2 linked regions of the Homo sapiens genome follow. The protein of the gene in region 1 purifies or fractionates together with the protein of each later gene. This does not show direct contact. Each region holds a gene or a part of one and is shown on either strand. Other genes may lie near its edges.

Evidence for each region. The genes of interacting proteins can lie anywhere in the genome.
Region 2: the proteins of DHX34 (region 1) and FBXO38 purify together in Homo sapiens (affinity purification with mass spectrometry; one large-scale study listed by BioGRID and IntAct). This does not show direct contact.

The regions. Positions count from the first base shown.
Region 1 is NC_000019.10:47,373,315-47,376,814, reverse strand, and holds part of DHX34 (probable ATP-dependent RNA helicase DHX34), read right to left. Parts: intron 3,217-3,500; coding exon 3,115-3,216; intron 1,350-3,114; coding exon 1,107-1,349; intron 892-1,106; coding exon 718-891; intron 373-717; coding exon 255-372; intron 1-254. UniProt on the Homo sapiens protein: Probable ATP-binding RNA helicase required for nonsense-mediated decay (NMD) degradation of mRNA transcripts containing premature stop codons. Promotes the phosphorylation of UPF1 along with its interaction with key NMD pathway proteins UPF2 and EIF4A3.
Region 2 is NC_000005.10:148,390,458-148,393,957, forward strand, and holds part of FBXO38 (F-box only protein 38), read left to right. Parts: intron 1-3,500. UniProt on the Homo sapiens protein: Substrate recognition component of a SCF (SKP1-CUL1-F-box protein) E3 ubiquitin-protein ligase complex which mediates the ubiquitination and subsequent proteasomal degradation of PDCD1/PD-1, thereby regulating T-cells-mediated immunity.

The DNA of each region.
Region 1 (3,500 bases):
CGGTGCTCACTCTCTGGGCACAGCCACACTGGCTTAGGTTGACTATCACCACCATGCGGAAGGTGAGGCCCAGCAGGGGTGAGTCACCCAAGGCTACCCAGGGAGGCCTGGCCCTGGAACTTCCCCTCCTGTGGGCCCCCGTCAATACCAGCCTGGGCCGGTGTGGGAGCCCCAGCCAGAGGGGCCTGGGAGTTCACGGTATCCCTGCCCCTCACATCCCGGATGGGGGTTCCTTCCGCCTGGGCTCACTGTACCTCGGCTTCCGTCGCAGTTGCTGGCCTCCAGCTCCTGTGCGTGCAGCACCTCGGGGCTGCCAGCGAAGACGCAGGTGGGGTGCAGCACGGCGCCCTGCTTGGCCTGCGTGTGGAAAATCTGCGGAGGACAGAGAGAAAGCACAAGCCCTCCTATCTGCTCTCTCCTCTGCCCAGGATGCCTCTCCTCCACCCTCTGGCCCAGGTTCCCTCCTCCAGGAAGCCCTCCCTGACTCCTCCAAATCTGGGGCAGATGCCCCCTGTGGGCTCCTATAGTGCTCTTGACTCCCCAAGCCCTGCCCACTCTGGGTTGTCTGGGGATGGGTCTGTCCTCCCACTGGGTTGTGAGCCCCATGGGGACAGAACCAGGGTTGTTTCAGTCACCACTGCATTCCCGGCACAGGACAGGCACTCAGGGTTCGTGTGTTGGAGGACAAAACATAGGATGGGGCAGAACAGGCCCCACCTGGTCTGAGTCCTTTCGGCTGCTGTTGAAGGCGTCGGGGACGGCCAGCTGTGGGTACAGGCCCCGGCCCAGCACCAGCTTCAGCAGAGCCAGCTGCTCGCGGCTCAGGTCCTGGGCTGAGCTGGCAGCGGCCTGCAGCTGCGCCAGGTCATGCCGAAGCTTGAACTTCACATCCTGGGGGGAGCACGGGGAGGCAGAGTCTTAGGGGACCTGAGGGGCTCCTACCATGATCCGCAGACCCCCAGGCTCTGCAGATACCTGGGACCAAGCACCGTCCATGGAAACCCGGCTCCTGAAATGAGGACAGGGCCATGTCCCCTGGGACCCCCCCAGGAGAGGCCAAGGCCCACCTTGGTAAACCCCCACACCCCACAGCCCATGGCGCCCACCTGGATGTCCACGCCATCACTGGCCCCTGGGGGGGCTGGGCCAGCCCTGTCCTCGTCACTGGAGCCGCCGTCCTGCTCCTCCTGCAGCCGCAGCACCTTGCGCCTGCGCCCCGCGCCCTCCTCGTGCTGGCGTTTCAGCTGGTGCAGGGCCCGGCGCTCCCGGCGCTGCTGCAACCGACTGTAGCTGTCCCCTACCTGCGCGGCCTGGGCCCCAGCCAGCAGCCCGTGGTCCTCCAACAGCTCCTAGGGGCAGGTGGGTAGGGGTGAGGGCCTCAGGGCAGACTCAGTGGGCTCTGGACTCATGGAAATGGGGACCCTCCCAGTGGCAGGGCTGCTAGTGCCCAAAGGGGGCTGAAAACAGCCCCTCGCATGGTGCTGGGCATGGATCGCTGCTCCAGAGAGAGAGCTGTCCTCGCTGGTCAGTGGAGGGAACACCGGGGCCAGGGGCAAGAGGAGGCAGGTGCGGGCGTCCAGTGCCTTTTCCCACAGCTGGCTCCAGGCTCTGCTGACTGCCCCACCTGCCCCTTGGGTCTGGGGGGCCCTGCTTTCCCACACAGCCCTGGTGGGCGTCCTGCACTAGTGCTTCTGAGTGTAGCCCTGGGGCATCTAGGCACATGCTGGGAATGCCAAGTCCTGGGCCTCATCCCAGAACGACCAAGTGGAGAGAGGAGGGGGCTCGGCGGGGTTGGCCATCTGGACCCAACAGACCCTCCAGCTGCCTGTGACCCATAAAATCTGAGACCCCTGCCCTCCCCGTGCCCACATCTTGTCAACATTCCTCAAGTGACCCAATTTGGTTGGACCTTCTGTTTCCTGCTGAGCCCTGACCGATGGAGGACACAGGAGATTGTGCGTGCATGTGTGTCTGTATGTGTGCATGTGGGTGCAAAGGGCTCACACTTTCCATTAGATTCTCAAAGCATCTGGGGACCAATGAAGCCTGAACACTGCTCTAGCAGCCAGAGAGAACTCGGGACCCATGCTCAGAGCAATCGGGGCATCTGTGGTCCCCAACACCGGGACCCCAGAAATGGTACCGGAGGTGTCGGCTGGGTGACTGCCCCCTCTGGGCCTCAGCTTGCCCATCTCCAACCAAACAGAATGGATTACACCAGGAACCCTTTTATTCTATTCTCAATCCATGGATACAACCATGGAAAAGGACCTAACAGCAGGTCTGTCTGCACTCAGATGGAGAACAGTATCTATGAAACAAGCTGCAGAACTGTGTGGGCGCAGGAGAAACCCAAATCTTTTTTTTTTTTTTTTTTTGAGTGGAGTTTCGCTCTTGTTGCCCAGGCTGGAGTGCAATGGCTCAATCTCGGCTCACCACAACCTCCACCTCCTGGGTTCAAACGACTCTCCTGCTTCAGCCTCCCAAGTAGCTGGGATTACAGGCACGTGCCACCATGCCTGGCTAATTTTTGTATTTTTAGAAGAGACGGAGTTTTACCATGTTGTCCAGGATGGTCACGATCTCCTGACCTCGTGATCCACCCACCTCGCCCTCCCAAAGTGCTAGGATTATAGGCGTGAGCCACCACGCCCGGCTGGCAAGTGCTATTTTTATCCTCTCTTTTTATCGAGGGGAAGCTGAGGCCCAGAGACAAGCAGTAACACACCCGGGGCCACGCTGTCAGAAATGGCAGAGCTGGGATCTGTGGCTGAGGTGTCTGGCTCCAGATGTGCCGGCCAACCACAACCGTAGGCTGCCTCCAACACCATGCCCATGCAGCCAGCTCAGCATCCCCAGTCCGGAGGGCGAGCTCTTCCCGAGGATGCTGCATGTCCACTGACTCGGTCCACCCCTCCAGGAAGCCCTCCTGGATTTCTGCTCCCTTTGCTCTGCCCAGCTGCCCCAACACCTGGTCACCGGGTGGTGGGGGAGGTGGGTGCAGGGTGGGATTCTGGTCTGACCACTGTCTGGGAAGGGGAAGCAGTGTTCTGGAGTGTGCTTACACACGTCTGCCTGAGTGGGGCCGGCCTTACCCCTCCTCCCGAGCCTCACCTTGAACTGGCGCCGAAGGTTGGCCATTTCGTACAGTCGATGCTCCTCTATGCCCCGGCGGCGGCACCACTTGCGAGAGTTTCTGCTCCGTTCAGATTTCACCTGGGTGGAGGAGCAGACGCCAGGGTGTCAGGGCCTGGCCAGTGCGGGGAGGGAGGGGCTGACCGAGCACCCAGAGCCCCAAAATGGGCATCCCTCAGGGACACCTGCTCTCCTGCTTCCAGGTCTCAGCCCCAGTGCCCCCTCCTATGGGAAGCCCTCCCAGACTACCCACAAACTGGGTTAGATGCCCCGCTGGGTTGTCCCAGCCCCCTGGACTCCCCATTCCAGCCCTCTCTGGGTTGTCACTGTCACATCAGTGGTCTGTCTCCCTGCACTGGGCTGTG
Region 2 (3,500 bases), on another chromosome or scaffold:
ATTCACCTGCCTGGTAAGAACTAAAAGACCCAAGTCTTCAATTCTAGCCGTGATGTAAGAAACAGGAATAGTTTTACCTAAAATTTTGTCAGTCCTGCTAATTTAAAATTTAGGCTTTTTGCTAGTTAGTGTTAAAGGATATTGTAGGTTAAGAAGGTTTTTGTCAGCTTCCTGGAGATCTAACCTCAGTATAATATTGTATAACATCATTTCTGTGAGTAAATATTTGTTAACTCTCAATAAGTGGAGTTTTATAAACTCAATGATATTTAAGGTGCAGGGTATTTAGTCTAAAAATTTACGTATAGTTTGTGCACTAGGGCTACTAAATCTAATTCACACAAAAGCACCACATTGCAGAATCCTAAGGAACAATCAAAGGTGGAATCAGTAGAGGAAGGTGTTATTAGGTGGTGTGAATTTGAGGAAGAAAAAGGAGGAAGAAGGGATTAAAAAAAAGCTTTTTATTAAAGGAATAAAGAATCGAGCATCATCTCGATGAAGGATTGTCAAGATTCTTAAAGCTGAACATGTGCTAAAGTATAACAACTGGTGGATTGGTCTGAGCATCTAGGTAATTTGTGGGTGGATTAGTCTTTGCTGGTTAATCGTCCTGTTGAGGCTTTTACATGCTACAGAGTAGCTGTTAGGTGTGTCACTGCAGTAAAATCTGATTGCATTATTGTCTAGGTTATAAGTTTGTTGCTGAGATCATTGAATGCTGTGGTAGCAAACGTCTCATAAGAGCATGAAATGGTTTTTAGCAGCAGCCTCGAAGCTACTGGATGTATATAGAATAATGGAAAGACTGGTGGATATTCATACATTAGATATTTGAGGATATATTGTGAGCAAGGACTTGTTGTCACCTAGAGGCAAGATTTTTTAGCAGAAACATGACTAATAAATCACTACACAAACTGCTGTGGAAGCATATGTTAAGTCCCACAGGGAGCTCAAATGAAGGAGTCAGTAGGGGAAGCTTTTACAGAGGACTTACATTTAAGCTAGATTTTTACAGGCAGTTTTCTAGGCAAAGTAGGGAAAAGAAGGACATTTCCAGTCAGAGTTAAAAGCATATTAGGAATGAAACACCAATGGTTGTTTGGGGGAACTAAGAAGATACTGGTCTGCTAGAGTGAGTATACTGAGAGCAAGTGGTAAGGATTGGAAGAAGATAAGATTGGAACATCTGGTGTTTTGAGATTAGATTGGAAATATTTTATCCTCTGAACCAGGATTCCTTGTAGGCCGATTGTTTTGTTTTGCTTGGCCATGTATATTGTACTTCTTAAAAACAATCTGAAAATTTCAAATGATGGAGAATAATATGAAGTGAAAAGTAAAAGTTTTTTTCTGCTTTCCTAAACCTCTGTTATCACTCCTCAAAGGTTACCGGTTAATATTTTGTTGTCTTCTTTCATAAAATGTTGTATGCAGACACAGTATATTTGTCTTTTTTATCATACTTTTTAAAAAAAGTTTTAGGGGGTAATCTTTTTAATTTTTAAAATTATGTTGTTGTTAGAATCATACTTTAGATGTAGTCTGTGTTTTGCTTTTTTCACTTAACACTATAAATCAGGAGACTGTTTTAAAAAGATAACTGGCTTCAGTATAGAGTATAGCATGGTAAGCATTTATTCAATAAATTACTTATGGCAGGCATAGTGTCTGCTAAGCTTTTCCTCGACCCTGAGGATACAGTGATGGGTATCATTTAGGAAGCCATTTCCGTAGTGCACGTGAATGTTAATGGAGTCCCAAAAGGTAATGGGAATGGATGTAAGAACTGTATTGAGATAAAATTGATAAAAATAGCCCATCAATTGTCTGTGGGAAATGAGAAATCAGAATATATTTAGGATGATTTCAAGGTTTACAATTCAGGAATTCAGTAAAACACATTAGGGAAATAGGTGTGTTTATTTGTATATATCTGTGTATCTTTGTTTTGGGGAGGGGGAGGGTTCGTGATATGAAGGAGTTCATTTTGAACATAGTGTTTTTGAAGGATGTTCAAGTTATTGAGGTGAAAATTTCTGATAGGCAGAGGAAATAAAGTTCAGAGCTCAGGAGAGGTAAGAAGTAGAGTTGGAAATTTTTTCTTTTTTTGCTTTTCTTTGTGTGTGTGTGTGTGTGTGTGTGTGTGTGTGTGTGTGTATTTGTAATAGCTAAATCCTTGGGAATGAGTACAATTGCCCAGGGAGAAGAGGGCTCGAGGATAAATTAGCAAAGGAGACTGAGCAGTGGTCATAGAGGAACGACAAGAATCGAGAATATCACTTTCGGAGCCAAAGGATGAGAGGGTTTCAAAGGAGTGGTCAGCGGTGTCCCATAATACAAATGGGTCAGATGGGGAAGCACTGGAAAGAGGCTATTGGATTTGTTGACTACATGTTCAATGTAACCTTAGAGGTTTCAGGAGCTATCATAAGATGGAAAGATTCATTTGGAGGAGGCAGGGCAGTAAACAAGAAAAGGTGGGCAGTGGTTAATCAGAAGCAGGTGAGTTTATTTATAGCTTTTCTTTTAGCTTGGGCAGTTCTGAGTATGAACTTTATTTTTCCGGAGGCCTCTTAGCCAAAATGTGATAGACAACATAGGAGTAAGCTTCTGAGAAGTTAAGACACATGTCACAAATTCAGGGTAGCATAGCCCATATACCAGTCCACACACATTGATTTCTCTGGTTTCTCAGGCCGTACTGGTTAGAAACAACAGAAGAGGGGTGTGTGTGTGTGTGTGTGTGTGTGTGTGTGTGTGTGTGTGTGTGTGATGAGAGGCAAGCATGCTGACAGCCTCAAGAAGTAAATAGCACATAACCTTTCAGTGAGGGAAGAAGAGACCAGAACACACACACACAGGCAGAAGAAATGATGAAGATTTACTTAGCCTAGTAGAGTGTCCATTTACTGCTGAGGCAAAAAAAACCTCAGGAACTGCATATACTTAAAGTACCCTCTGCCCACCAGGTGCCTTTCTCCTAGTGAGTTCTTTCCTACTTTTTGCAGTGTTAATTCCTGCTCTCCCTTCAGTTATGGGCTCAATTGTCTTTCCCTCAGGAGAACCATTAGTGACTCAGGCCCCTTTGTTATATGAGGCTTCACAACTGTGTTTACTGTCTTTGCAGCAGTTATCTCCGTGTGCAATTCTGAGCTCATTTGCGTGGTTATTTAATTGTGTATCTCCACTTAACTCTGGGCCGTTTGTTTACAATGGGCCCAGAGTACATAAGTGGTATTCAAAATAAATGTGCCAAGGCATATTTAAATGAATCTGAATGCACCTCTTTTCAGCTGTCATCCTGTGCCTCCTCCATCTACAAAGCCATTAATATAAAAGAGACCAATATTTCCTATAAACTTCCCTATATCTGTACCAACATTATTAAAATATTCCTAGACAATTTGACAATCAAGGTGTTAACTCCACATGCTGATCAATAGAACAGAAAACCATCTGGGTGCTCATGCAACCCATTTTCTCCCTGCTTTCCC